4 linked regions of the Homo sapiens genome follow. The protein of the gene in region 2 purifies or fractionates together with the protein of the main gene of each other region. This does not show direct contact. Each region holds a gene or a part of one and is shown on either strand. Other genes may lie near its edges. The genes, in order: CRYBG3, MLF1, FAM83H and PDE4DIP.

Region 1 (7,724 bases), about 61 Mb from region 2:
CATTATCTACGTCATGCTTATGAAGCTCCATTAATAAAACTTAATATCTTACATATGACCTTATATTTTAGATAGCATTTGACTTAGATAAAAGACACATCACACTGAATTGGTGTGAACAACTATTTTGGAACACATGTTATAATCAGTGTTTGTCAAAGACATGCTACCCCTATTTATACATTTTTAAAAGTACGTTTCAATATTAGCAAATTTTGTGCTGTTTGAAAGCTATATATTTAATTTTTAATGTTAATGTTATATTTTTGTAAAGGACTAATTTCTCTTTGAAGTATCATCATATCAAAGGGAGAAAAGTGTAAATGTAGTTTAGGTCAGACTAACACATTTTACTTAATTTAAGCATTAAAAGATGTGTGTTCGAAAGATCTCAATCTCCACATGTTCCGCAAACAAAAACCAGACAAACAATACAATAAAACATCATGCATCTCATAGAAGTTGGAATAACCAATTACTTAAAAATTTTACCATCTGTTCTCATTGAAGCAGCAAGACAGGCATTTCCCCATGTTACAAACCATGATAATTAGAAAGTAACAATGAGAAATGCTAACATCATTTTTCCCCTTTTTTATTTGCTGTGGGAGTTCTTAATGAAAATTTGAGCATATAAACAAAGGAAAAGAGAAGATATTCCCCCCACCCCACCTCCTAATTGAGTGCTTATATTCAGTAATAGCTTTTTGCTGCCCTGGGCCGCATGACACTGCCTCATTTGGCCACGCACAGCTATTATTCTAGGAGGCAGCTAGTGAAGTGCCCCAATCCATCTGCTTGCTTTTTCATGGGCTGGTGCTTTCCTTGATGTTGACAGCTGTCTTAATATTCCTGGGCCACCTGCCACACAGTAAATACTGTGCTCTAAGATATATACAGAAGCTTATTCCCTGGTGGACTTTTCAGAACAAAAACGCTTAGCATTACTAAACTACTCTTGCAGTTTAAATGCTTCAAGGATCAACACTTTCATTCTATTCTCATACCTTTGAGAATGGTACTTACGTTGTGGGAATGGCAATTCAGTTACAGTGTGATGAACTTCAGGATTTCTCATATATCACACAAGTTATTGAATTACAGTATTATAGGTGGAAATCAGGTGCTAAAAGGAGGCAGAGAAGAAGAGAGCATATTAACAGTTATCTCCTCTAGTGAGCCTTCCAGGAACCCTTCAGATTAAGTTGGGGATCCGTCCTATGTTTCCCATCTTACCCCATTTGCTCATCTTGCCCAATTAAACTTGCTCCTTGATGTTAAGCATTTGGTCTTATCTATCACCGTATCTCTATGTCTAAGAATGAGCATGTATCTGACACATAGTATGCACTAGAGGACATATCCAGGTTTTGTGGGATCTGAAGTTTTTACAATTTGGAGGGTCCTCTTTAAAGAAAAAGGATTTAAAAGAAAATTAGATATAAAAATGAATATATTGAATGAAAACATAAACCATGCAAATTACTAATTTTAAAAGGTTGACTAGAAAAACAATTTGTTTTCTTACTAAATGCCTTGCACAATCACTTTTTTTCCTATATTTTTGGCAGTGTACTCTTCAATAGCCTTTCATATGACAATAATTTAGTAATATTATTTTCCATAATAATGAAAAGATAATGCAATCTTTCCTCTAGTTCTGTTTTTCTTATTGATAGAAAGGCTGTGTAAACATGCAGTACTACACACACACACACAAAGCTTGTGGTACTGCTACAGGTTTGTACCCTACAAACAAGAATTCTGATAAATTCTATTTTACATGGTTTACATCAACAAGAAAAAATGTTTTGTGTTTACAGTTATAAAAATTATTTTGGGTGGCTGAGACGGGTGGATTACCTGAGGTCAGGAGTTCGAGACCAGCCTGACCAATATGGTCAAACCCCGTCTCTACTGAAAATACAAAAATTAGCTGGGCATGGTGGTGGGCGCCTGTAGTCCCAGCCACTCTGGAGGCTGAGACAGGAGAATTGCTTGAACCCAGGAGGCGGAGGTTTCAGTGAGTTGAAATTGCACCACTGCACCCCAGCCAAGGTGACAGCGCCAGACTCTGTCTCAAAAAAAAAATTAAATATACTGCATTATTGAATATATTATTGCTATGAGAGAAATTACATCAATCGGAGGCAATCCTTCCTGTTGAAACTTTGTCTTCTGATGCCTGGAATAATTTTCCACATGACACCTGATGCTGCTTTACCTTTCAAATCTTGTCTCACCTCTATTACCCACATATTTTCAGTGTCAGAGACCACAGAATATATCTCCTCTGGCTCTGCATCTTGGGTGTAATACTTGGTGAGCTGCGCTACAAACAAATTGGAATTTAAGAAATAACTATACTTTGGAGAGGCTGGAAACCACATAAATATATTCCACTAAGTCCAAACTAAATATATTCCCAACTGAAATTCCCTAGCAGATTCCCAAATGCTCTTGATAACTCTAAGTGGAAAAGAAAATCTAAGTGGACATCTAAGTGGAAAAAAAAAGAGATTGTGGTCTTAATCACATTAAAACATTTACTTTTGTAAATTTGATAAAACTGGCCATGGATCCCATTGCTGAGTTCACACTGGAAGAGACTGTGCCAGCAGGGAGCCAAGAAACTTGAGCCTCATCGGCTTCACTGTAGATGTGCTTCTACTGCAGGCACTCACTAAACGTCGGGGAATAACTGGATCAGTGAATTAATGACACTGTGCTAAATTAGTATCTCTAAGATCCTTACAGCTCTAAAATTTGACATTTTTACAGGCTTCCTAATGCAATCTTAGAATTTAGTATTTAGAAATTTGTTCATATGAGTTCAGGTTATAACAATGTAGGACATATAGAAAACTAATAAGTGCTCAGAAAGCAAATGAAGGAAAATTCAATGGTCATTGTTTTATGACTTTAAGCTATTTTGTCATAGACGCAATTTGTCTTAGTGTAAACATGGCATTATTTGTATTTACCATTCACTTAAGTGCTTTGCTGTGCTACCGAGTGGAGATCAGAGTATTGTTAGATATATTATTAGTTAAAACCATAATTCATTAATTAAATCCTATTGACTCCCCCCCATTTTTATTCCAAGAAAAACTTCCTGAACGAAGTACCCTCTGGGTAGGCACTGGGGCCTGGTTTGATCACAGAACAAGTCAGGGACAAATGTGATAGTCATTCAATAATACGTTGGGAAGACAAATTATCATTTGGGCCTTTTAGCTGGAAGAAACAGTTTGCTTTATTACTCTCTTTGGGCTTTTTGGTAAGTGGGTCTTCAGTGGAGATTCTCTTATAAAATAATAAAGCTAGAATTGGGAACTTGTCTTATTCTAGTCTATTATCTTAGTCTTTTTCTATTTTCTCAGACTAGGCTCACAGAGAAATAGGAAAAATTTACCAAAGAGTAAAAAAGGATTAATCTTGAGGGATAGACTGAGATGAACCCGATTGATGGAAATCGGGCTGACTGAACTTTAATGGGTTAAATCCTGCCAGAACAAATGAGAATGAGTGTCTTGGCTCTATTGCAGTTAGTAGGAGCTGGAGGGCTTCTGGGAGGCAGCGTGGGGAGGCAGGGAGGCTCAATAGCCTCCAGCAGGTGCTGAAAGGACTTGGGGCTTATAGGTATGCAATCTACTTATGAGCAACCTTCTCCTCCAGCACCCGAAAGCCAGAGGGGAGATTACTCCAAGGCTCCCCTCTGCTGTGGACATTTCATTTTTATCTCATTTACTTGTATACATTTTTTAATGAACAAAAGCCATATCACTTCCTTGACGTCTACTCCAGGGGCAGCTTGCCTTCAAACAAAAACAAAACACTTGGGGTGAATGGGCCTCTCAGTATCTCCTGTACTAGCTGCTATAGGGTATGAAAAACCAAGAAAAATCCATACCACTGTACTTAGACTTAAAACAAGTCTTAAGCACCCTTTGGTTCCCAGATTTCAGTGGCATCTGTGTAACGACTGCAAAATATGTTGCAGCATTGACAAGCTTGAAATCATACTTTTTGATCAGTGCCGTTTTTGAAAGAGTTCGCAGGGAAGTATGGCGTGTGAAAAGTCTGAAGCACAGCGCGGTTAGGAAAAGTCACACCACAGAAAGCCAGCAGAACGCGCCGGGAGGTGGTGACCGCCTGACAGGTACCCCCTTCTCCCTCCCGCCGCCCGGTTCTGTGCTAACGCGACTTTCGCCCTCAGGGTTGGAGCTGTATTTGCGGTAGCTGTTTCTTAGCTCCCAGCAAGTCCGGGGCGCCCCGGTACTGCAGTTTGCCAAGTGTTTTCACAAACCTTAGTTCATAAACCTCTTTCAAAAGCCCGAAGAAAACCGTTTCTGTGCTCTGACTGTAGAATAGAAAACACAACGGTCACAGAAAGTAATTGAAGGCAAAGCCCAACAGGCTGCAGCCTGAACTTGTTTGAGCCGTAAGCCCGAGCCTAGCGTCGCACGCTGGGCGACTCCCCTCAGGCTCTCAGGCCGGCGCCTTCGGGGGACCACGTAGCGCCCCAGCGGTGGCGGCTGCGCCCGGCTCAGGGCGGTGCCGCGGCCACTGGCTCCTCCTCGGGGTGGGGCGGGCCGCGCCGGGCGAGGGCGGGAGGAGGAGCAGCCGCAGCGGCGTGAGGAGCTGCCGCGCGAGGAGCGCGTCGCGTCCGCACTTCTCCTGCCCGAGAGAGACTGAGCCGCGCTGGCAGCTCGCGTCGAGTCGGTCTGCCCTAGCCGCATCCCGCGGCGCCCGGTCGGGCTCCGGGCACCAGGCAACACCTAGGCCGTTCCCTTCAGACAGCCCCGGGCCAGCGGCCCCCTCGGGAAATGTCCAGCGGCCGCAGAAGGGGCAGCGCCCCCTGGCACAGCTTCTCCCGGTTCTTCGCTCCCCGAAGTCCTTCCCGGGACAAGGAAGAGGAAGAGGAGGAGAGGCCGGGGACGAGCCCGCCTCCAGCTCCAGGCCGGTCCGCTGCCAGGTGGGAGTCGAGGAGGGGGTCGCGGGGGGGCCCTGCACATATTCGCGGGATGAAGGCTCCCGGCCTGACCGCCGGCAGCGGGCCGCTCTTGGGCCAGGCTGCAGTTCGCTCGCCACTTTCTGTTCTCCTTCCTCCATTGCTAAAGTTTCCTCCTCCTTGCCCCGTTCCCGTGCCGCACTACTCGCCTCTCCTCTGCAGGTTAAATCGGGGTGAAGTTCTTGCCCGGCAGCCGGACGCATATCCCCCGATCCCCGCCTGGCTCCGCGCTCTTCCTTTCCCACTTTCCCCTGCCCGGACGTGATTGGGTTCCCGTTCCACACACGCTCTACTCTCCAAGTTCTGTGGCAAAAGCGATTTCCCCGGCGTCCCGCCTGCAGTAATGGGAAACACTTGTGAGCCGAGCGGAGCCGTCGGCCAGGGGAATTGGGGGCGCGATCCCAGCACCACTTGTGTGGGAGGAGATCGGGGCAAAAGTGGAAAAGGTAAAGCTTTGGGGCGTCACCCCCTCAGCTGGTATTTTTGCCATCTTATTTAAATTTTCTCAAAATGATTTTTAAAAGGAATTGTGATAATGCGTTCCCAAGACTTTCACCAAAATGGACTGGACATGTAAATGACGCCACCCTTCTTTATTTCTCATCTCTCCTAGAAACATCTGCCTCAAGTTCCCAAACAGATTCTGGAAATCAGGTTTCCAGCTGTCTTGGTTTCAGTAATCAAAATGTACCCTTTCTCTGTAATATTTTTATCTTTCCTTCACTTTCCCATGTTCAAAAATCAAAAAATTTTAGACATGCCTCATTTAAATGCCTGTTTCTGAGTCTTTTCATCCCCCCGAAGAAAGAGGGGTTAAGTAAAACGCAGCTCGCTTTCTTAAACTTATGAGAGGCTTACACTGTCTTCTCCCGAGATTGCACTAGAATGACCATTGTCATTGGAAGGACACACTCCAGAAAACCGTGTTTACTTCGGACTCAAGATTTCCTGGTGGGCTTAAAAAAAATGGATAGGAAACAGAACTGAGAGTGAGCCAATTCCATTAGTATTCAGATTTTGTGATGTGATTTTAGTCGTTTGTGTGTTCCTCGGTTTCCCCGCTTGTGAAACATTTTCATTATGACCGTCTGTTAATAACATGCCACATGTTTCCAAGAAAGCTCCTACGATAATTGAGTGGTTATTCTCCTGGGACGTTTCAGCTATTATTGCTCTGACTGTTGAGAGTTTAAAATTCAAAGTTACACAGAAGTTAAAAATAGTTTTTAAGTCTGACAGATCTCATCCAGGGTGTCAGCTAGTTCTGTTGGTGTGGGCAGACAGCCTGTGGTGCCTGCCACCGCCGTAACAGCACTAACAGTCTTGGATAATATGAACGCAGTCTGCAAGGAAATCCCAAGTAGGCGCAGCAAAAGTTGGGAACTTGAGAGTCAGTGTTAGAAAGGAGTAAGCAGGTCAAATTCAGGCTCATGTCAGTAATGGCCTGAAATCCTGCTTGCCTCTCTGCCCTATTTTGGCTTTTTAAGGCACTTCTCAATTCTAATTTCTTTACTGACTGGAGCTGACCCCTCCAGCAACTAGTTCCTTGTTCACCTACCACTTCTCTATTCTCATCATCTCCAGATTGGCACAAATTATGGCTTTTCAACGATGAAGATTTTAATTGTGCTTATATCAACGCTAATTTTGTTCTCATCTTTTTTGGAACTTGCCAGATGTTAGGGGGATAGCAGATGACCCTTTATGTGGGTGTTTTACTGTTTTAAATGAGCTTAAATCTTTCATTTCAAGGGCATAAACAAACACAAAGCCTTTATTGAAAGTTTAATAAAACAAATGGAACCGCTTTATAGTACTGAATGTCCCAGTAACACAACACCCTGATGTTAACAAGATTGGAAACAGAATTGCAATTTGTCACTGTGATCTTATTTCAAAATGAAAGAGTATTTTGGCTATTTCTCTTTGTGGGCATAAAAACTTTTATCATTATGAGAGCTGGGTATACCTTCTGTAGTGATGATTTTAGATGAAGAGGAGTACAAAATTAAAAAATAAACTAAAACATAATTATGAGACCCGTAAAAGTCGAATTTACAACATCCTGAAACTGTTTTTTTGCCTGCTCACAAAATGCGTACTGGGACAAACACCAGGTCTTTGGGGAGCTGCCATGCCTTGATACAGGTCTTCCAATATTTTACTGTTTTGAACCATAGGAAAATCTTTGTTTTTATGGTGTGCTGTGATTTATATGGGCTTCAGTTGGTGACAACACTTCATTATGTATTCTTTCTTTGTCACAATTAAAGAAGGCCTATTAGCATCAACACTATTGTATATCCCAACTTAGGCGTAGGCACTCAAATTGCTTGATTGTACTCATATTAGGTGGTTGACCATTTCCAGGAAATGCTTATATTAATTTATTTTAGATGATAAAAAGGAAAACTGCAATTGAAGTTTTCATAGGAAACTCAAAAACTCCCAGAGTTCTGTGGATCCCAGTTTGAGAATCACTGGTGCAGTGTTAAGCCCAGTTTATAAGCATACAAGGAATGGACTCATTAGAAGTGATAGGGGAGACCAGGAAGTGCTTCCTGGTAGGGATGATTTTAACTGGGTCTTCAAGGAATTGGTGATGTTTCTATACAAAGAGAACTTAGGAAGAGAGAGAATAGGGAACAGGTATTCCGGGAAAAGGCATTCCAGACTGAGCAAAGGCCTGCAAGGGGTTTATGATCTGTTA
Region 2 (7,287 bases):
GTGAAGGAGGGATTAGACAGGTGACCAGCGGTGGCCTTTCTCAGGTGGTGATACTTGAATCATGAGAAGGAACTAACTAGGTTTAAAGTCAGGAGGAAACATTTAAGGAAGAAAGAGGAGAATGTGTACAAAATTTTTGAAGGCCTTAAGGGCCCACTGAAGTCTCAACTACATTTTGTACCCCAACTTTTTGTCACTCCAGTGTGTTGGGTCACCCCAGAGCAAGTGCAGATACATCTTTTGATGGTTGATTTGAACATGAATTGAGAAGAGGGCAGAAATACCCAAATGTCTAATCTTTTCCTCTCTCTCTTTTTATCCTTCTTTGGGTTAACCTTTCCATATCTCATGAAATAAGAACGGATTCTCAATCTAGTGTTAAAGCAAATATTCAGAATATTCCCTGAATTGTGTTTGCCTCTCTGAAATGCAAAATTAATTCTACTTCAGTCCTTTTTTACCCAAATATATATTAGTATTTCCTAAATGTGCCTTTGTTGTTCCCTACAATATTAAGTGCAGGTTCTAAGGAGGAATTTGGTTTTCCCACCTATTTTACATTATTATATCTGTAAAAATCCAATAGCAATAGAACACAGAGACACAAATAGAACTTAGGAGGATTCAGAGCTCCGCTTGGTTGAACAGAGAAGTTCATTAAACCAAGCAACTCATTCTGTTTTATAACAGATGATTTACTGGCTAACACATTGGAATGTGTGCCTGACTTTTATTTTCTGGTGAGTCTTCCAGTGATAAAACCTAAAATCAGTGGTAGATTTTAAAACCTAAAATCAGTGGTAGATTTTCCTAGAGCAAAGTTTCTCAACCTCAGCCCTACTGTCATTTTGGGCAGGGTAATTCTTTTTGTTCTGGGAGACTGTCCTATCCATTGTAGGATGTTAAGCTGCATCCCTGACCTCCACCCACTAGATGCTAGTTATATGCTCTCTTCATCTGTGACAGCCAAAAATGAGTATAGTTATTGCCAGTGTCCACTGAGAGTCAAAATCAATCTTGGTTGAGAAACTACTGTTTAGAGGAATTCTTAACTGTTTTTCTGAAGACACATACCTCATGCTTCAAGGGTATAGCCTACTGACCCTTCAGTAGGCAGCAAATTGAAGGCCTATTAGTAAAGTGAATTGATTTCTGTCACCCAGATCCTACTATGATGAGAGGAAGGCTGGCTACTTACTCGAGGGACAACTTCTGTCAGCCATGTGGTACTGCTGGAGGTGACACTGGCATCTTATACGCAAATTTAGTTATTTGCATGGTGGAGTATTGAGAGATAAGGAAAATTATGAAAACTATCGTATGCTAGAGAATGTATCACTTAGTATTTAACATACACCAAATTATGTTTTGAAAAAGTGAGTAATGAGTGATTAGGTGTGTATGTGTTTTTATATATACATGCACATATATGTATTTATAATGTTACAGTTCCCTAATTATTTGTATGTTGGCTCTTTGGGATTTTGTGTATGCTTCAATTTTCTCCTTAACTAATCACTGTCATTATATCCTCTAAGTTATCTTTGTCTGGTTGATTACTGCATGAGATTTCACTAAATGAATTGGAAAAAAATGTTTTAGCTGTTTTGGAAGATGTATTTGCATCTTTTGTGTTGTTACCTACAGTTAATAACATACTTCCTGATATTCTGTAGCATACAGATGTCAGCTCTTTCCAGACAATGGACCAAATGGTGTCAAATATGAGAAACTATATGCAGAAATTAGAAAGAAACTTCGTAAGTACTAAAAACAAAGCATTGAGAACATTGTGTATACTTTGATATATTCTATTTCATAGTGGCTTTCAAACACTTTTTTAACCATAGTGGTTAAAAAAGATACCTTACATGATTAACCCAATAAGCAATATTTGTATACTTTATAAATATATTTGAAGCAAAAGTTTCATGAAAAAATGACTATACTATTTACAGTATATACAGTTATTTTCTAGTCTATTTCATGTATTAAAAATCCTGGTTACAACCCACTAAATTGAGTTCATAACCTCCAAGTTTGAAAAATAATGTTAACTTTGAAAATTTTTTAAAAATTGGAAAAAAAATAACCTCAAAAACATTGATTCTATTGAAAGTCACTATTGTAAATGAACATTTTATATGAATTTGCATAATTTTATTATTAATAACCTGTCTACTTAAAAGGATTTGTAGCATCTGAAGAGTTTCAGGGTTTTATAAACGACTCTGAAAACAGAAATTTTAGGAATAATGTTTAGGTATAGTTCCCTAATAGTCCAAATAAACTAGTACTATAATAATACTCTCTATATTAACATCAAAACCAGTCACTTGATTTGATCTGAAGAAGACCCATAACATTCTAGTCATCCAGTTTGAATTCTATGGATCATTTCAGAATGCCCAAATAATCTAGGGCATTATTGGTTTTAGTAATGTAGCAATCTGGTACCTACAGGAGGAGGTACGAAACTTGATGTATAACTAATTGATTGGCTTAATGTTGGCAAGATTACACACAAGGGTCAACCACTGACTATAGAAGTATCACAGGTTTGGGGGCATAGCATCTTTATTGAAATCTAAGCCACGAGCACCCAAAGACTTAAGGATCTCTGAGTGAGTCACTTATTAGTCTTTGTAACGAGAGTGGGATAATTGTACCTAAAATGGACGACCGTTAGGACCCTCTAGGGGTGACTTTTTTTGGGCGGAGGTAATTTTTCAAGTCACTTCTCACTTGAGAACCTGGGTGTGCCTTTGACTACACCATATTGGTAGTTTAGTATCCTTAGTAGAACTTACAGCTAGTGTTGTTACTTATTTGAACTCTCTGGCAATAATTATTTATATTTGACTCGACTGAATTTACAATTTGTTTACCTGTAGGGTCAACTTTCAGTGGATCCAAATGGACATTCATTTTGTTCTTCCTCAGTTATGACTTATTCCAAAATAGGAGATGAACCGCCAAAGGTTTTTCAGGCCTCAACTCAAACTCGTCGAGCTCCAGGAGGAGTAAGTTTTCTATAAGCATTCCTAAAGTTTTATAAAGTTAGGGGATGATAGACTGTCTAGATCAAATTTTAACTATTAAAATTTAATCTGGTACAAGATGGTGGGGGGACAGGAGGGAGGTGTGGGGGTTGGGGGTAAGGTAGTCCTCACTGTGGAAACCATTAAAGCTCAACTGTATTTACTTAGTTTGTGGCATTTTTTTTGTAGCCCCCCCACCCCCCCGTGAGGGTGCCTTTTTTCATGTAAATATCTATGGATGTTTATTACCTTTACATGTTGACAAGGTAAACAAAACACGAAAAGAAGCCTTTGTTTCATGAAATTAATGTCTATTTTTAAGTTTACATTTGAAGTGAATTAATTTTTTAACTCATGAAATATTTCAAGTGTACAGAAAGGATATAGAGAATAACATAATAAGTGCCCATATTCCTGCCACCCAGTTTAGTCATATCATAACATTTTTCTCTATTTGCTTCAAGTTGTCTCTTGCTTTGTTTTCTTTTTAAGCGAAAATGTACAGAGGCAGTTAAACCTTCTAATACATTCCTCTGAGGTCTATTTTCCCTTTCTCCCCTTCTCAGAGATTACCATTTTCCTGTATCTGGAGTTTATCATTTTCACGCATGTTTTTACAATTTTATTACTTCACGTTTCTGTCATTAAAAAAATGGATTATTTTCCAGATTTCCCAACATTACATAAAGGGTATCATATTGCATATGTCCTCTGCAACTTGTCTTTGCTGAGTAATATGCTTCTGAGATTTATTCAGCTTGATACATGTGGCCCTGGTTTCTTTAACTTCTATGTAGTATCCAAAATATGAATATATTATGATTAATACGCTTCTGAGATTTATTCAAGTTGATACATGTGGCCCTGGTTTCTTTAACTTCTATGTAATATCCAAAATATGAATGTACCATGATTTTTAAATCATTTTCTGTCAATAGATATGTAGGTGAGTCTAATCTTTCACTAATTCATCTTTATACATGGCTCCTTATACAGAGTCTAGGAGTGGTATTGCTGAGTTGTAGGGTATGTGTACTTTCCTCTTTACCTAGCGTTTCCAAGCTACTATCCCAGTGATTGAAATTGTTGGCTTCCAAAACTGTGGCTTGTGAGTTTCCATTTCTCTACTTCCTTGTTAGTACTTATAGTAAAAATTTAGGTTTACCAATCTAATGAATGTGAAGTAGTACATTTTTTAGTTCTTACATATAAAGATGAACCTTTTAATGATGCTTTTGCCATAGTTCTGCTAATTAATCTCAGACATTTTAATTTTAACTTTCTAAAAGTGACAAACTTAAATGTAAACAGAATATAATTGTAGATGTCCCACAGTAAATCATGTTAGTTGCTATCAGAAATATTCTTATAATACTTCCATAGAGTTGATAGTCGGGAATCATGAGATTCAAGCCAATCAATATGACTGATGAATAATTAGTTGCCCTTATTTGTAGGAATCCCACCATAAACTTCCTTCTATTACATTATCTAAGACAGTCTTGAAGGCATTAAACTATAATTGCTACTTTTGTTTTAATATTTGATTACAATTTGGAAAAAGGTTAAATTGTATGGGTTCTGTTTGTTGTAGACATTTTCATTTTAAGGAGTTCAGGAAATATCAGAGACTTATTACCACAGTTTTACCACAAGTTAATAGTGGAACTGAGCACACATTATTTTTAGAGCAATAGATCTATGGCCATATCTCTGTAGGTAAGCTGGCCCTGAGATATACATTCTATATATATTTAAATAATAATAAAATTTCTTTATTTTTACAGATAAAGGAAACCAGGAAAGCAATGAGAGATTCTGACAGTGGACTAGAAAAAATGGCTATTGGTCATCATATCCATGACCGAGCTCATGTCATTAAAAAGTCAAAGAACAAGAAGACTGGAGATGAAGAGGTCAACCAGGAGTTCATCAATATGAATGAAAGTAAGTTATCACAAAAAAATAATATTCTTTCTTATAAATTTAAAATAACAGCCGTACTTGATGAATTTTTTTTTAGAAACATGTCATAAGATGTAGTTTTTGAATAATGCATGTAGAGAATACCTTGTGAAAGTAATAGGATTGTGTTTTCATCCTTTCATAGGAGAGCTCTTTTTTATAGTGATTTTTGGCAATATGGGATATTACTTATTTTTATTTTATCCTTGGAAAGTGGAATCTTTTGAATTGTTATTTAGTAATATCATTAGGCAAAATGTGTCTTTAAATATTTTTTCTGATTATCAAGAAAGTACATTTGAAAAGTATAAAGACAAAAATAATCCATAATCCAAACTCAAAATACTAGTAATATTTTAATGTATTTCTTCCTAATCATTTTATATATATAAACACTTTTTTCTCAAATTATTATTCTACTTTTATATAGTTTATATTGTGCTTATTTTAATTTACCATTATAATTGTAAAGTTACTTATGATGCTATTTTTCAAAAGCATTTTAAGTGGTTACCTTAAAGTTTTATTGTAAATAAGCCATAATTTTTACTTAAATCATTCTGTACTGTTCAGTAGTACTTAGGCTTTTGTATAGACAAGATTTTAATTTCTGTTATATGTTAGATTACATGTATGTCTCTCTCTCTCAAGTAAATCTTTTCTTTTTCTGGATTTTGTATTTATTCTTCAATGCATTTACATCCTTCTAGTGTCCTAACTCTTCTCCCTGTAGTTTTTAATTATATTACAATTTATTAACAAATTTAATCATTAAATTTAAATTATTTTTATTAATTTTTAAATCAATATTAAGCTTTTATATTTAATTGTATTAATTCAATAATGAAATTATATTAAAATTTAGTTGGATTCATCTCCTAGTTTCAGAAAGTATTTTGAATAATGTTTTTCCATAATAGAGTGTTTAAATTTTAAATTGTTGTATTAAAAAAGAAATTCTGGCCGGGCACGGTGGCTCATGCCTGTAATCCCAGCACTTTGAGAGGCCGAGGCAGGTAGATCATGGGGTCATAAGTTCGAGACCAGCCTGGCCAACATGGTGAAACCCCATCTCTACTAAAAATACAAAAATCAGGGCCCGGCACAGTGACTCACGCCTGTAATCCTGGCACTTTGGGAGGCCAAGGCGGGCAGATCACGAGGTCAGGAGTTCAAGACCAGCCTGACCAACATGGTGAAACCCCGTCTCTACTAAAAATACAAAAATTAGCCGGGCATGGTGGTGCACGTGCCTGTAATCCCAGCTACTCGTGGGGCTGAAGCAGGAGAATCGCTTGAACCCAGGAGGCGGAGGTTGCAGTGAGCCAAGATCGAGCCCTTGCACTCCAGCCTGGGCGACAGAGCGAGACTCTGTCTCAAAAAAATAAATAAATAAAATAAATAAAAATACAAAAATCAGCTGGGCATGGTGGCCCGCGCCTGTAATCCCAGCTACTTGGGAGGCTGAGACAGGAGAATCTCTTGAACCCGGAAGGCAGAGGTTGCAGTGAGCCAAGATCACGCATTGCACTCCAGCCTGGGCAAAAGAGCAAGACTGTGTTGGGTGGAGGGGAGGAAGAAATTCTATTAACATTGGGGTTTGATAAAATTATTCTTTTTTTTTTTTTTTTTTTTGAGACGGAGTCTCGCTCTGTTGTCCAGGCTGGAGTGCAGTGGTGCAGTGGTGTGATCTCGGCTCACTGCAAGCTCCGCCTCCCAGGTTCACGCCATTCTCCTGCCACAGCCTCCTGAGTAGCTGGGACTACAGGTGCCCGCCACCATGCCTGGCTAATTTTTTCTATTTTTAGTAGAGACGTGGTTTCACCATGTTAGCCAGGATGGTCTTGATCTCCTGACCTTGTGATCCGCCCACCTCAGCCTCCCAAAGTGCCGGGATTACAGGCGTGAGCCACCACACCTGGCTGGGGTTTGATAAAATTATTCTTATGCAGTAAGATAGAAGCCATGATATTGTGACCTGTGTTTATTTGTAACCTCTGTAATTTTATCACATTTATATATATACTGAGTATTTCACAATAATCAACATTTTGATGAAAAATTGAGTGAAGGAACATAATATTTTAAAGCAGTCTTAAGAAGTACTATCATGTCTCTATTGTTGCTATTATGGAAGTTAGATTACTTCATAACAACATGAATTGACATTCTAGCTGAGTAACCTGTCTTAGGAAATTGACAACAGAAACTTGTGAGGTCAAGTTACACAGAAAGATGGTTAGGTGAATAGAAGTGCTAGCCACAGAAGTATACACTATAC
Region 3 (7,287 bases), on a different chromosome or scaffold from region 2:
GGCTCAAACAATCCTTCTGTCTCAGCTTCCCAAGTGCCTGGGACTATGTGTGCACGCCACCATGCCTGCCTAATGTTTAAAATTTTTTGTAGAGATGGGGTCTTGCTGTGTTGCCCAGGCTGGTTTCAAACTCCTGGCTTCAAGCAGTCCTCCTGCCTCAGCCTCCCAGAGAAAGGAGAGACAGGGCTGGGATACCTGTGCCCCAGCCCTCTGCCAGTGTCCCCTCAGCTAGGGGCATCCTAGGGTCTGGGTTGCTCTCTGTGAGCCTGGTTCGGCTGGTGCCCTGGAAGGCCTCCTGGGCATGGGCTAAACTCCAGCCTACCCAAGTCACTGACGGCCCTTTCCACAGTGTGTCCATGCTCGAGGGTAGGAGTGGTCCCAGTGCCCCCACCCCTAGTCATGTGTCTCCCTGCCCCTCCAGGCCCCTGGCCCCAACATGGCCCGTCGCTCTCAGAGCTCCTCGCAGGGGGACAACCCACTGGCACCCGGGTACCTGCCGCCTCACTACAAAGAGTACTACCGCCTGGCGGTGGATGCACTGGCCGAGGGTGGCTCGGAGGCCTACAGCCGCTTCCTCGCTACCGAGGGGGCACCAGACTTCCTGTGCCCTGAAGAGCTGGAACATGTGAGCCGACACCTTCGGCCTCCGCAGTATGTTACCCGAGAGCCACCTGAAGGCAGCCTTCTCGACGTGGACATGGATGGCTCCTCGGGTACATACTGGCCAGTGAACTCAGACCAGGCCGTGCCTGAGCTTGATTTGGGCTGGCCTCTGACCTTCGGCTTCCAGGGCACCGAGGTGACCACCTTGGTGCAGCCACCGCCCCCCGACAGCCCCAGTATCAAGGATGAGGCCCGCAGGATGATCCGTTCCGCCCAGCAGGTGCGCCATCTTGGGCTTGAGGGTAGTGGGGGAGGGGCCTGGGCTAGAGGCACGGGGGTGGAGGAGATGCATGAGCATGATCAGCTTGAGGGGTGAGCCTGAGCTCCAGCTGGAGTGGGGGTCCCTGGCAAAGATCTTCAGGGCTGCCAGGTCTCGGTCATCAGGGGCTGCAGGCTCTGCACAGGTCTGCTTGCCTGTGGTCATGGCCAGTGCCCAGAAACTCGGGGGCTCTGGGGATGGGTGGGCACCCCACCAGCCTGGGTTCATTGTTCAGATAATTACCTCTCATCCTGCCCGGTGGCCCTTGGCCAGCTGAGGGCTTCTAACCATCACCAAACAGCTAGCAGACGGCGGAAGGTGCTGTTAAACCATAGCGACTGAGGCATGAGGTCCAGACGCTAAAGGCTTGTGACTTTCTCCCCTGCCCAGGGCAACAACCCCGTCCCAGGGCAGAACTGGAGCCTGGCACTTGGCCCTGACAGCTGCCCTGGAATGGGGGCAGCTCAGCCGTCTGTAGGGTGGAGGGGATTGAGGGGCCCTTGCCGTGCCCCAACCTGGCCCACCCTCATCCAGGGTTCTCTGCCCTGCACCTGCCTCGGTTTCCCCCTTATGGCCAGCCGTTCCACACCTCTTCTGTTTGGTCCCTTCTTCCTGCCCATCTTCCCAGATGTGGCGCCAACTCCCTAGGATGGACTAGCTTGTTTCACAGTGGTCGTGGGTGATCCAGACACCTCCCGGGTGTGGAGGGGAGGCTGGACAATGGTGTGGGGACAGCAGGGGCCTCTCCTCTCCGTCCTGACCCGCCCCTGCAGGTGGTGGCCGTGGTGATGGACATGTTCACTGATGTGGACCTGCTCAGCGAAGTGCTGGAGGCCGCGGCCCGTCGGGTCCCAGTCTACATCCTGCTGGATGAGATGAACGCGCAGCACTTCCTGGACATGGCCGACAAGTGCCGTGTCAACCTGCAGCACGTGGATGTGAGTTCCCGGGAGTGGGAGATTGGGGAGGACCCGTGGGAGAGATCTGACTCCCCTCCCTCCCCAGTTCCTGCGCGTACGGACTGTGGCGGGCCCCACCTACTACTGCCGCACTGGGAAGTCCTTCAAGGGCCACGTCAAGGAGAAGTTCCTGCTGGTGGACTGTGCCGTGGTGATGAGTGGGAGCTACAGGTGCGCCCGCGGGGCTCCCTCACCCCCTTCTCTGGGGCCTCCTCCTGTAACCCCAGCACCCCCTTTCCACACCAGGGCCCTCCTCGCCAGGAGCCCTTGTCCTGTAGACCCCTGCACAGCCTAGCCGGGCCCAGGTCCTTGCAGACCTCACATCCCTGCGTCCTCCGCGCCCCACCCGCTGCCCACGGGGCTGCAGTGCCCTCGCTCCAGCTCGGTTTGACTCTGGCCCTGACCCCCCCACAGCTTCATGTGGTCCTTTGAGAAGATCCACCGCAGCCTGGCGCACGTGTTCCAAGGAGAGCTGGTCTCCAGCTTCGACGAGGAGTTCCGCATCCTCTTCGCGCAGTCCGAGCCGCTTGTGCCCTCGGCCGCGGCCCTGGCCCGCATGGACGCCTATGCCCTGGCTCCGTATGCCGGGGCCGGGCCTCTCGTGGGCGTCCCTGGGGTCGGGGCGCCAACCCCCTTCTCCTTCCCTAAACGAGCGCACCTCCTGTTCCCGCCACCCCGGGAAGAGGGCCTGGGCTTCCCCTCCTTCCTCGACCCGGACCGCCACTTCCTGTCGGCCTTCCGCCGGGAGGAGCCGCCGCGGATGCCGGGGGGCGCGCTGGAACCGCACGCGGGGCTGCGGCCGCTCTCGCGGCGCCTGGAGGCCGAGGCCGGGCCGGCTGGGGAGCTCGCGGGCGCGCGGGGCTTCTTCCAGGCGCGGCACCTGGAGATGGACGCCTTCAAGCGGCACAGCTTCGCGACCGAGGGCGCGGGCGCCGTGGAGAACTTCGCGGCCGCGCGGCAGGTGTCGCGGCAGACGTTCCTCAGCCACGGCGACGACTTCCGCTTCCAGACCAGCCACTTCCACCGTGACCAGCTCTACCAGCAGCAGTACCAGTGGGACCCGCAGCTCACGCCGGCGCGCCCGCAAGGCCTGTTCGAGAAGCTTCGCGGGGGCCGCGCGGGTTTCGCGGACCCGGATGACTTCACCCTGGGCGCCGGGCCCCGCTTCCCGGAGCTCGGACCCGACGGGCACCAGCGGCTGGACTACGTGCCGTCCAGCGCGTCCCGCGAGGTGCGCCACGGCTCGGACCCCGCCTTCGCGCCCGGACCCCGCGGCCTGGAGCCCAGCGGAGCCCCGCGCCCCAACCTGACCCAGCGCTTCCCATGCCAGGCCGCGGCGAGGCCGGGCCCAGACCCCGCTCCCGAGGCGGAGCCGGAGCGCAGGGGCGGGCCCGAGGGGCGGGCAGGGCTGCGGCGCTGGCGTTTGGCCTCCTACTTGAGCGGCTGCCACGGCGAGGATGGGGGCGACGACGGCCTACCGGCGCCCATGGAAGCGGAGGCTTACGAAGACGACGTGCTGGCTCCCGGGGGCCGGGCACCTGCCGGCGACCTGCTCCCCTCGGCCTTCCGCGTCCCAGCAGCCTTCCCCACCAAGGTCCCGGTGCCAGGCCCGGGCAGCGGCGGCAACGGCCCAGAGCGCGAGGGCCCGGAGGAGCCTGGCCTGGCCAAGCAGGACTCATTCCGCTCGCGCCTGAACCCCCTGGTCCAGCGCAGCTCCAGGCTGCGCTCCTCGCTCATCTTCAGCACGTCACAGGCCGAGGGCGCGGCCGGGGCTGCGGCGGCCACTGAGAAGGTGCAGCTGCTGCACAAGGAGCAGACGGTCAGCGAGACGCTGGGGCCCGGCGGAGAGGCCGTGCGCTCCGCGGCTTCCACCAAGGTGGCGGAGCTGCTGGAGAAGTACAAGGGCCCAGCCCGTGATCCCGGCGGCGGCGCGGGCGCCATCACCGTTGCCAGCCACAGCAAGGCCGTCGTGTCCCAGGCGTGGCGGGAAGAGGTGGCGGCCCCAGGTGCCGTGGGGGGCGAGCGCCGCAGCCTCGAGAGCTGCCTGCTGGACCTGCGCGACTCCTTTGCACAGCAGCTGCACCAGGAGGCGGAGCGGCAGCCGGGAGCCGCGTCGCTCACCGCGGCGCAGCTGCTCGACACACTGGGCCGGAGCGGCTCCGACCGCCTGCCTTCCCGCTTCCTCTCTGCCCAGAGCCACTCAACGTCCCCGCAAGGGCTGGACAGCCCTCTGCCGCTGGAAGGGTCCGGAGCGCACCAGGTGCTCCATAATGAGTCAAAAGGGAGCCCCACCTCGGCTTACCCTGAGCGGAAGGGGAGCCCCACGCCTGGGTTTTCCACTCGAAGAGGAAGTCCAACTACAGGATTTATCGAGCAGAAGGGGAGCCCCACCTCAGCCTACCCCGAGCGCAGGGGTAGTCCGGTGCCCCCCGTGCCGGAGCGCAGGAGCAGTCCGGTGCCCCCCGTGCCGGAGCGCAGGGGCAGCCTCACCCTTACCATCTCCGGGGAGTCCCCGAAGGCCGGGCCCGCGGAGGAGGGGCCGAGCGGCCCCATGGAAGTCCTGCGCAAAGGCTCCTTGCGTCTTAGGCAGCTGCTGAGCCCCAAGGGCGAGCGGCGCATGGAGGATGAGGGTGGCTTCCCAGTGCCGCAGGAGAACGGCCAACCCGAGAGCCCGCGGCGTCTGTCACTGGGCCAGGGTGACAGCACGGAGGCTGCCACAGAAGAGCGGGGTCCGCGGGCGCGCCTGTCCTCAGCCACGGCCAACGCCTTGTACAGCAGCAACCTTCGGGATGACACGAAGGCCATTCTGGAGCAGATCAGTGCCCACGGCCAGAAGCACCGTGCGGTCCCTGCCCCGAGCCCCGGCCCGACCCACAACAGCCCCGAGCTAGGCCGTCCACCGGCTGCTGGCGTCCTGGCCCCAGATATGTCCGACAAGGACAAGTGTTCAGCCATCTTCCGCTCGGACAGCTTGGGGACCCAGGGCCGGCTGAGCCGCACGCTGCCAGCCAGCGCGGAGGAGCGCGATCGGCTGCTGCGCCGCATGGAGAGCATGCGCAAGGAGAAGCGCGTGTACAGCCGCTTCGAGGTCTTCTGCAAGAAAGAGGAGGCCAGCAGCCCTGGGGCAGGGGAAGGCCCCGCGGAGGAGGGCACCAGGGACAGCAAGGTGGGCAAGTTCGTGCCCAAGATCCTGGGCACGTTCAAAAGCAAGAAGTGAGTCTTCTGGCCTGGCAACCCAGGCCAGGGTGCCCGCATCGCTGCCCCGGTCATCCAGAAGCCCCGCGGAACAGAGAGCCCTGCTCATCTGCTTGAGCAGCGGCTGTCAGGCCACGGCCGCTTGGGGCTTGGCTGAGTGCGCCAGACCTCGGCTCCACTGGAGGCTCACCTGGCAGCTGCCGTCTCTGCCCCCTGGCCTCCCCAACGCTGGGGCTGCACCCCTCGCCACCAGTGCCTTTCTCCCCTCAGCACCTTCATCTCTGCACCGTCAGCCTTGCGTGGCGCAGCGTCTGGCTCCGCCATCTCTTTGTGCCTCAGTCCCCCCCGCCCCCTTTATTTTTTTGAGACCTAGGGCTGGAGTGCAGTTGAGCGGTCTGGGCTCACTGCAACCTCTGCCTCCCGGGTTCCAGCGATTCTCCTGCCTCAGCCTCCTGAGTAGCTGGGATTACAGATGTATGCTACCACGCCCAGGTAGTTTTTGTATTTTTAGTAGAGACAGGGTTTCACTATGTTGGCCAGGCTGGTCTCCAACTCCTGGCCTCAAATGATCAGCCCGCTTCAGCCTCCCAAAGTGGGGGGATTACAGGCGTGAGCCTTGCACCCCGCTAAGTCCCCTATCCTCTTGCAAGGGTCTCGCCTCTGTGCCTCAATTCCTCATTCTCTGGGCCCTTCTCCTCCTCAGGGCCTCCTGTTCTCAGGGCCTCCCCCCTCCCCGCTCCCTCCCTCTCTCAAGGTCTCCTCCTTCCCTCCCCCCCCCCCCCCCCCGTCTCCCCCCTCCCCCGCCTGGGCTTCACTTCCTTTCCTACTTGGATTCTCCTGCTCGCTGCCTCCCAGCATCTTTTTTGGAGGCCCGTCTCTTGCTGTGGGGAAGACTGGGCTGGCTGCGGGCAGTTTGCAAGGGGTGGGTGGGGCAGGGGGGGGGGAGCTGGACCAGAAGATGCCCCTTGGAGTGGCAAGGAAGCTGGACAGGGCAGGCCTCTGGGGACGGGACACAGGGAAGCCCGAAGGGGCGCCTTGGCCAGGTCTGCCATCTCCTCCAGCGAGGCTCTGGCCAGCACTGGGTGAGAGTGGGGAGGGGGCATTGGCCTTTGCAGCACAGTAAAACATGGTCCAGACAACCTGTGGCCCCGGCCTCATGAGCACCCCCTGCACAGGCCCGGCCCAAGCCAGGCGCTAGAAGGGCTGGTTGTGGAGTGCTTATCCTTGACAGGTATGGGGCCAGGTGAGGGCAGGGGACAAGGTGCAGCTGAGGCCGAGCCCAACTAGGTCCTGGGCACCCCTGCAGGTGGGAGTGGTCCTTGTCCTCCTGGTATCCAGCAGACACCCCCCTCTCCCCACCAGCCCCATTCTCAGGTCCTTTCCTCTTTGTCACCAACACCAAGAATCTGTCCAGGGTTCTTGGCTTATCTTTTATCTCTTTTCACTCCTAGAGAGGAATTGCAATTGACTCAGAATGACACATTTTGGCACCACGTGTGTAGAAAGCCCCCACTGTTAGATGATAGCCTCGTGAAATTCATGTTTCTGTATTCTCCTATTTCTTTTCAAAAACTAATTTTTTTTTTAGTGTAATAAATCCTAAGAGGGAACTGATTTAAGAAACAAGGCCGCCAAACAAAGGCAGCAGTTCCGACTCCAGCAGCTGGGAAAGGAAGGAAAGTGACCCCACTTTCACTCCTGCACAGCCCACTGGTTACCAAAACCACCGTGCAAGTCGGGATGACAGCAGGGACTTCTGGCCAGGTGGGAAAGGTGCCTGGAAGCGGGATGCGCCTGTGCGTCTCTTGGCCATGATGTTCTTGTGGGCATGTTATTCTTGGTGCTGCCTGGGGTGTTGCTGAGCGGACAGGCTCTCCAGCTGGAGTCCATGGAGAGGCCAGAGGCTGGCGGCCCTGCCTGGGCCTTCGGAGCCTCCTGCCTGCACCCTCCACCTCTTCTAAACCATGATGTGGCACATTTTGGTGTTAATAAAACACAACACACAAAGTATTCTAGCATGTTCCCCAGTGTGTATAATCGCCCAGTTACATCCTGCAGCCTTTAACCACGTGGCCTCCCAGATTTCCCCTGTGGACCCACCACCCACCCCTGTGGGGGGCACTAAAGACCCCCCAGCTCCACTTCCAAGGCCCACCTTGGCCTCCCCAACTTCACGCTGCTCTCCTGTCCCTGTCCCCGATGCCCCCTGTG
Region 4 (8,241 bases), on a different chromosome or scaffold from region 2:
TTATTTACTCAACAGAAATGTGTACATATGTTCATCAAAAGACCTGTACAGAAATGTTCATAGCAACACTGTTTATAATAGCTCCAAACTGGAAATTGCCCAAGTGCCTATTAAGAATAGAATGGACAAATAAATTTGATATATTTATACACTATAGAAGCCTATTTAAAAGCAAGAATAAATGGACTACAGTACCATATAACAGTATAGAACTCCAAAAGCAAAAGATTGAGTGAAAGGAGCCACGTACGAAAGAGTACATGGTGTATAATTTCATTTACATAAAGTTCAAAACTAGGCAAAATTATTCTATGGTGTTAAAAATTAGGATAATGATTATCCTTGAAGTCATCAGGAGGGCTTCAGGGATGCTGGTAATGTTCCCTTTCTCTATCTGAATGCCCATCCCATGAGTATACTCAGTTTGTCAAATTAATTGGACTGTAAATATATAATTTGCGATTTTTCCAAATCATTTCTGAATTTGTCTGAAATTGTTACATGTAAATATAAAATTTTTAAAACTTAATAAATAATACTTTTTTCTTCAAGTGTGAAAAACACTGGCAGAGAGCAAAAGGCCCTGATACACTCACTCCCATCACCATCAAGTGGTCATCTAGCCTTTGCCTGAGTAACTCCAGGGTCAACAATCTCTTTACTGCCCATACTGCCCAGGCAGCTAACTTGTTAGAAAGCTTTTTTTTAATTTTTTTTTGAGACGGAGTCTCGCTCTGTCGCCCAGGCTGGAGTGCAGTGGCGCGATCTCGGCTCACTGCAAGCTCCGCTTCCCGGGTTCACGCCATTCTCCTACCTCAGCCTCCCAAGTAGCTGGTACTACAGGCGCCCGCCACCACGCCCGGCTAATTTTTTTTGTGTTTTTAGTAGAGACGGGGCTTCACTGTGTTAGCCAGGATGGTCTCAATCTCCTGACCTCGTAATCCGCCCCCCTCAGCCTCCCAAAGTACTGCAATTACAGGCGTGAGCCACCTCGCCTGGTCTTTTTTTTTTTTTTTTTTTTTTTTTTTTTTGAGGCGGAGTTTCGCTTTTGTTGCCCAGGCTGGAGTGCAATGGCTTGATCTCGGCTCACCACAAACTTCTCCTCCCGGGTTCAAGCGATTCTCCTGCCTCAGCCTCCGGAGTAGCTGGGATTACAGGCACGTGCGACCACGCCCGGCTAATTTTGTATTTTAGTAGAGATGGGGTTTCTCCATGTTGGTCAGGCTGGTCTCGAACTCCCGACCTCAGGTGATCCGCCTGCCTCAGCCTCCCAAAGTGCTGGGATTACAGGCATGAGCCACTGCACCTGGCCAGAAAGCTTTTTCTTTACACTGAGCCATAACTCGCCTCCCAACAACTCGCTTGCATCGGTTGTTCTGTCCTCCTAAGAGATTCTAATGTGATTCAATCCCTCTACCACCAATAGCTCTTCGGAAATTTGAAGGAAGCTACCACATCCTCCCCACTCCCAGTCGTCATTTCTCCGGACTCAGGAGTCCCAGGTCCTTCCTTTGGCCATCCCTCAAGGCATGGCTTTGAGTTCCCTCCTGTCTCTTGATTGTACTTATTTTATCTAATGATGCCCAGAACTAAGCACAGCCCTCTCGGAGAGGCCCAAGAGGAGCAGAAAGGAGCCAAAAGTAAAATCATCACTTTTGATCTAGACAGAATCTAGACAGCCTACTTCTTCTGTCAACAAACCCTAAGCTTCAATTTGCTCCTTCTTTAATATTCACATTATACCATTCACTCCTGTTGAGCTTAGCAATCAACTAAAAGCACCCAAGTCTTTTGCATAAGCCCCAAATTTACCTTCTGTGTTTGTACCGTCTTCACTCTCTCAGGAGTCAGAGCGCTCATTTGGCCCCACCCCAATTCTCCAAAGCTAAATCCCACAGATGGAAGCGTATCTGTTATAGAGACACCGCTGGAATAGTCTCCCTACCCTCCCACCCACTAAAAAACAGAAACGAAGTCTTTGTCTCAATACATGGTCTCTTATCCTTACCCTTTCCTTGAATGGGGCTTCATTTTAAAGTGTGTCTGGGGGAAGGACTGGAAGAAAACGCAGTTTCACAGGCCATCTCCAAAATCTGACCTAAAAGCCAACTGTTGCCTGGCCTCAATAAAGCCTGAGCAGTGTGGTGCCCTGATCTCTTTCCTTCTCCATTCCTCCCCCAAGTGGGCTCCAACTGGAGGTTGTGGAGATGAGTGCTGCTGGGCTCTGCTCACTCAGTCCCTTTGCCTTTGTGTGAGTAGTGACAGATGAGGCTGAGAAGGAAAACGTGGCAGGGTGAGAATAAACCTGATATTGTTCAAAGCATCTGACATCAAACATATCTCTCAAGAAGACCTACTGGAATCCCTCTAGCCACACGAACAAGGAAACGACAGAGAACCATTTCTACAGAAAGTTCCAGGCGGCCTCCCTGGGTATTTTTAACATCAGGACTCGGTGGAGGGGAGAGTCATTAAGCAAGGGAAACCCCGTAAAACAGAACATGTGAAAATGACCAAGAGAGGTGGGCTGGGAACCAGGCAGGGCGAGGCTACAGAAAAGGGAAGCTGTCACGGGACCCTGGTGGTGAGGGGCGACCTCTCTCTCCCTAAGGGCGCTGGGGGAGGGGAGGGAGGAGGACCACCAAGTCTGGAGCGCGGCGAGAAGGAAACAGCCCACCTACCTCGTCCAGGTCTGCTCCATTTTCCAGGCTCTTTCCTTAGTCTCAGGACGCTCCTCACCCGGGAGGGGAAGCAGCCTGGGAAAATGAGAAGCCTTGCCCACGAATCTCCAGCGCAAAAGGCAGCAGCTTTTTCCTCCCCAGCTCCTTTCTGCGTCGGCGGCGAAGAGAGAGCTCTGCTCCCTGCTTTTTTAGAAAATGGATTTGACGTGGCCGAACCTGCGGCTAGCCGTGCGACCCGCACAAGGGAGGGACTGTTCTCAGTAGGAGGCTGGACTCAGAGCGGCGCGGCGCCCGGGGCTGTTTCGTGAGCTGGAGCCAGCGGCTGCCCGGGCCGCGGTGCGCGCACTCTCCAGGCTGAGACACGACTGGCTGGCACGAGTTGCTCGGCACCAGCTGAGCTGTCAACCGCGAGCGGAGGCGGGGCTCCCGACAACCAGTGTGCTGGGGCAGAATCGGCCCAGGTTACACGCCCCCTGAACCACCCTCGCGTCTCCCCGACCCCTCTCTCGCTGGCTCAGATGAATGATGACGGCAGAGGGCAGAGAGCTTAGAGGACGCGGTACCAAGCCCCGTCCCTCGCCCATCCCAACGAAGGTCTTAGAATACAATCAACCAACTACAGGAAGAATTTGTAGAGGAGGTTTTCTTGTGTGTCTGCATCGCCCCACCCACAGGTAACCCCAGAGCCAGAGATGGAGTCTAGGAAGGTTTAGGAGCAATCCCGGCTGAATGCAGATGTATACCCTACGTGGTCATGGAACACGATGTTGTCTTCCTAGAGATGTGACATGCCAGTTTCACCATTAATCCAGGGACAGGACCCTTCATCAGGAAGGGAAGCATCCCAACAAAACCTTACAGCCCTATTAGCTGCCTGTATCCCAGACATCTCCTGTTTTAGGGTATTCTACCTCCTCGTTTTTCAGTTTCGCCAGCAACTGGGCTCTACCAATAGCTTCAAGGAGGGAGAAGCTTCCTGACTCCCAGAACACTAGAAAAGCCTCAAGACAGTAGCCATCAGGACCTCGACACTCCCTTGTGACTGTTTTAAGATCATGGAAAAGGCCTCTTTGGAGATGGCATTGCCTCAGGCCCTGTACCATGTACTTATGTATCAAGATTTAAACAAGGCAGACATACTATAATTAGAGTGCTTGCCACCCTGAAGCTCCTTTTTAGCTTTCAAATAAGACCGTTTTATTAAATGACATAATCACTGTTATTATTAGCACTATCACTGACCTTTTTTTTTATCTGAAAAAGGCTTTATAGTGCCCACATGTGGCAATGTTAATTTCGTTGTACTTGTTTCAGAGATGATAAATTTGAGACCCCAAAAGGCCCAAAGTCTCTGCTAAGGTTCTGATACAGGCTGTGTTCTCCATTGGGTGGCCCCAGAGATATGTTCCCTGAATTTCTAAAGCTACGACCCACAAGACTTCTCCAGGATGAATTTATTCTTTCAGGCCTCCTAGGCATTTAACTCAGGAAGAACCTGGCATGCCTGGGTATTGGTGAGACTGTGGGGAGTCTGTGTTCTTGGGGGAACCTGTCATCTGTCTGTTATCTCTTGGATTGGTTCCCCTACATACTAGTACAAAGTAGGGGTGGGGAGGGGAGGATAACAAAACATTTGAAGGTTTAGCAGAACTGTCTAAAAAGCCCCTAGTCTAGACTCCTCCAACACTTGATTTATTGGTAGGACCACACTGCTCCAGAGCTCAAAATGTTACCAGGAAAAATTTCAAGGTCCAGTTTGATCTTAGACAAGGCTCACAGGCCACCTGTCTTGAAAAGAATATCCTGTTGCCTCTGATGGGGGGGAAGAAAAGGCAGGGAGAGTCAGATTCCCATCCTTCATACCAAAGTTGGGGCTATATTTAGCTTTGTCTCAAATCAAATTATGGGCTACCGAGTTGTGGAGAGGAACTCTGTCTACAGGCAGCTCACTGGATTCAAGAAATGATAGCACTAACTAGGTGAGCTGTGGGGTCTCAGAAGTGACGCTAGAAAATACGTTCATGTATTTTTAAAATAACTTTTTTCAAAAGTTTATAGCACATTCATTGTAAAAACATTTGAAAAATACAGAAAGTTATATAGATTACTCAGAATACCCAGGGATCTTCAATATTAAAAATGTGTTGCATTTTTTTCCCACTCTTTAAAAAATGCATCTTTTAATCCAAACACCAACTCTTTCTTACACACATGGGTATATTCTTGAGAAGAGAAATTTCCTTGTTGTTTTAAAAATTATACTTATTGTCAAAAGAACAATTTTTTTGCGTTAGATTTCAGAAGAAAAATATTCACCCATATAACCACTGCTACAGCACAAATGTTTAAATTTCTCCAAATTCCCTTTAGTCATTATCTATATATATTAAATATCTATTTACATAATTACGATTACAGCTTAGGTATATGTTTATATTCTCCTTCTTTCACTTAGTAAATATTTGTCCATGTTTTTAGGGAAAGTTCATAGTTATTATTCTAATGAGTGTACAATATTTTATAATATTAGTAGGACCATAGATTACTTAAAATATTCTACTATTGCATAGTTATGCTGTTTCTGATATTAGACTGTTATAAATAATGCCTTAATGAAGAGCTTTCTGCCTTTATCATTCTCCTTTTTTGAATTATGCTATGGTTGAATGTATGTATGCCTTCAAAATTCATACATTGGTACTTAACACCGAGTGTTATAGTACTACAGGGTGGGGCCTTTTAGGAATATGTCTTAGGAAGTGATAAGGCATGAACACTCCACTCTCATGAATGGGATTAGTGCTCTTAAAAAAGAGGTTGAAAGGATTGCTCTGGTCCCTTTTGTCCTCTGTCCCTCCAGCCATGTGAGGACACAGCATCTGTGGCAACAAGGAGCCATCTTGGGAGCAGAGAGCAAGCTCTTCCAGACACTGAATCTGCCAGCACCTTGATCTTGGTCCAGCCTTCAGAACTGTGAGAAATAAATTTCTATTATTTACAAATTACCCAGTCTAAGCTATTTTGCTATAGCAGCAGGAATGGACTAAAGGCGATTTTCCTGGGATAAAAGGACTTTCTAATTTTATTATCTTAGCCTCAAAAGCACTAGAAATTCTCCTTTTATTTTTTTTCTTATTTAATTTGTAAATAATTGGATAGTTATATTTTAGTTCTATATCTAGCTAGTATACTAATAATGTAACACCATCTCATTTTGCTTTACGTTTCTTAGAATACTAGCTAGTAAGGTCTTATTTCATATCCTTTCTTGGAAACCATATGTGTAGTAGCCAGTCTCATGAAATCCTTGTGTTGAGTCACTGTATTAGTCATCTTTTTGCTGAAACAATGCTGCTCAACAAAGAACTCCCCAATCTCAGTATTATACAACACACATCCATTTCTCCCTCAAGGATCTATAGTTTAGGTATGGATTGGTTTAAGTCTGTCATTTTCATGGCAGAGTGCAGGAGTGCAAGAGAGTTGGCAGAGACTCATGATGACTGGTCTCTGCTCAGAACTGGCACAGTCTCGCTTCTGCCATTTTCCGTTCACCAAAGTAAGTAACATGGCCAAGTCCAAAGTCATTGGTGCAGAAAAGTACAGTCTGCCCACAGAGTGCAGGAGGGGAGAGTAATATTTGTGGAACAATAATGCAATCCACCAGTCACTGTATGTGCTGCTTTCTTGCTTTTTGTTAAGCTTTTCTCCTTGTAGATACATGGTAACTTTATTCTTCCTCATCCCATTTTAACTTAGCTATGACTTTTGAACAGTGAAATGTAACTTGTTTCGTTGGCTGAAACGTGAGAGGAAGTCTCATGTGGTCACTTCTGGGAAGAACGCAGACATTTTTAAGAGCTAGTACATAATTGGCCCTTTTCAGTTTCCGCTGTTTTATTGATCCTTGAAGATCAATAAGATGAAGCTTTCATCAACCTAAGTCCCTGAGTTACTGTGATGGTCAGAGCCTTCCTGCTAACCCTAATTGAACATGTAGAATGAGCAAGAAATTCATTTTTGTTGTATTAAGTTACTGAGATTTGGAGATTATTTATTACTGGAGCATAATCTAGCCTATCCTAACACATTGCTTTTTATTTCCATTTTGCAACCAAGTATCGTTATGTGTGTGTCTGCTCTCAGTTTTCTGGCTTAGAACTCAAATAACCGGCCGGGCGCGGTGGCTCACGCCTGTAATCCCAGCACTTTGGGAGGCCGAGGCGGGCGGATCACGAGGTCAGCAGATCGAGACCATCCTGGCTAACACGGTGAAACCCCGTCTCTACTAAAAATACAAAAAATTAGCCGGGCGAGGTGGCGGGCGCCTATAGTCCCAACTACACGGGAGGTTGAGGCAGGAGAATGGCGTGAACCTGGGAGGCGGAGCCTGCAGCGAGCCGAGATCGCGCCACTGCACTCCAACCTGGGCGACAGCGAGATTCCGTCTCAAAAAAAAAAATAAATAAAAAGAACTCAAATAACCTGGGTAAATGATGTTGATAAATTAAACTATTCATTTTATTCTTTCCTGAGGGCACTGCTCTTAGTTTGGTCAACTGATTGTGCTTCAGGGAATACCTGAATTGATGATAAGGGACAAAAAATCGGAAGGTGTCACAGTCTTTACAGTCAGCTCCAAATATTCCAATGATACTTTTACCTTTCATTCAGTTTTTAAAATTCATTTTCCTTTTCTTCTCTCCAACTTGTTTCTGGGTAAAAAGGATTATTGATGTTGATATAGTTTACTGCATAATCTATACATCAATAATAAAAATAGCTATGTCTAATATATTTTTGCCAGATCCTCCTCTAACAATTGTGTGTATACTAACTCTTTTCATCCTCGCAGCAGTCTTTTGAGGTAGGCTCTAGTTAATGCCCACTTTACAAATGACTAATGTGGAGCACAGGGAGGTAAATTATACTGCCCACATTCACAAAGCTGATTGATGGCAAAGCTGAGATTTGAAACCAATCAGTTTTGTTTCAGAATGGCCTGCCTAACCATTTTGCGTACTGCTTCCCTAATTTTGACACGTAACATTGGCTGGGACTTAGATAGGAGGACAATATGTCTGCAACATCTGTCACTTCAGTGATCCCTGTGATCACCTGGTTAGTCAGAACATGATGTCTTCTTGATCCATCACAGCTCCATGTCTGTCTCTCTAACCTTGGGCTTAAAAAACAAATGCCCTTTCCAGACAAAGAGGCATCATTCTGAGATCAAGGATACAGTGTCTGTAGTAGATTAAAGATGACCACAAATTACTTGCTACTTCTCCCATTGAGAGGTGGAATCTAATTCTCCTCCCTTTAATATGGGCTACCCTTAGAGACTTACTTGACTAATAGAATACAGCAGAAGAGATGTCTGACTGGCCAGGCTAGGTAAGTAAGAAGCCTTGTAGCTTCCATGTGAGACTCTTGGGACATGTCTTCTAAGGCCTAAGCTGCTGGATAAGTCAAACTACCATGCTAGATAAACCACGTGCAGAGGCCATGAGACCACATGACAAGGGGAGGGGCCTAGCTGAGCACAACGACCAGCAGT

The links.
Region 1: the proteins of MLF1 (region 2) and CRYBG3 purify together in Homo sapiens (affinity purification with mass spectrometry; 3 studies listed by BioGRID and IntAct, with this or other methods). This does not show direct contact.
Region 3: the proteins of MLF1 (region 2) and FAM83H purify together in Homo sapiens (affinity purification with mass spectrometry; 4 studies listed by BioGRID and IntAct, with this or other methods). This does not show direct contact.
Region 4: the proteins of MLF1 (region 2) and PDE4DIP purify together in Homo sapiens (affinity purification with mass spectrometry; 3 studies listed by BioGRID and IntAct, with this or other methods). This does not show direct contact.

What each region holds. Positions count from the first base shown.
Region 1 is NC_000003.12:97,817,378-97,825,101, forward strand, and holds the start of CRYBG3 (very large A-kinase anchor protein), read left to right. Parts: upstream 1-4,633; 5' UTR 4,634-4,829; coding exon 4,830-4,978; intron 4,979-7,724.
Region 2 is NC_000003.12:158,595,186-158,602,472, forward strand, and holds part of MLF1 (myeloid leukemia factor 1), read left to right. Parts: intron 1-1,676; coding exon 1,677-1,760; intron 1,761-2,894; coding exon 2,895-3,023; intron 3,024-4,828; coding exon 4,829-4,988; intron 4,989-7,287. UniProt on the Homo sapiens protein: Involved in lineage commitment of primary hemopoietic progenitors by restricting erythroid formation and enhancing myeloid formation.
Region 3 is NC_000008.11:143,723,732-143,731,018, reverse strand, and holds the end of FAM83H (protein FAM83H), read left to right. Parts: intron 1-421; 5' UTR 422-436; coding exon 437-883; intron 884-1,695; coding exon 1,696-1,860; intron 1,861-1,927; coding exon 1,928-2,052; intron 2,053-2,295; coding exon 2,296-5,098; 3' UTR 5,099-7,086; downstream 7,087-7,287. UniProt on the Homo sapiens protein: May play a major role in the structural organization and calcification of developing enamel. May play a role in keratin cytoskeleton disassembly by recruiting CSNK1A1 to keratin filaments. Thereby, it may regulate epithelial cell migration.
Region 4 is NC_000001.11:148,839,235-148,847,475, reverse strand, and holds the start of PDE4DIP (myomegalin), read right to left. Parts: upstream 3,049-8,241; 5' UTR 2,702-3,048; coding exon 2,682-2,701; intron 1-2,681. UniProt on the Homo sapiens protein: Functions as an anchor sequestering components of the cAMP-dependent pathway to Golgi and/or centrosomes.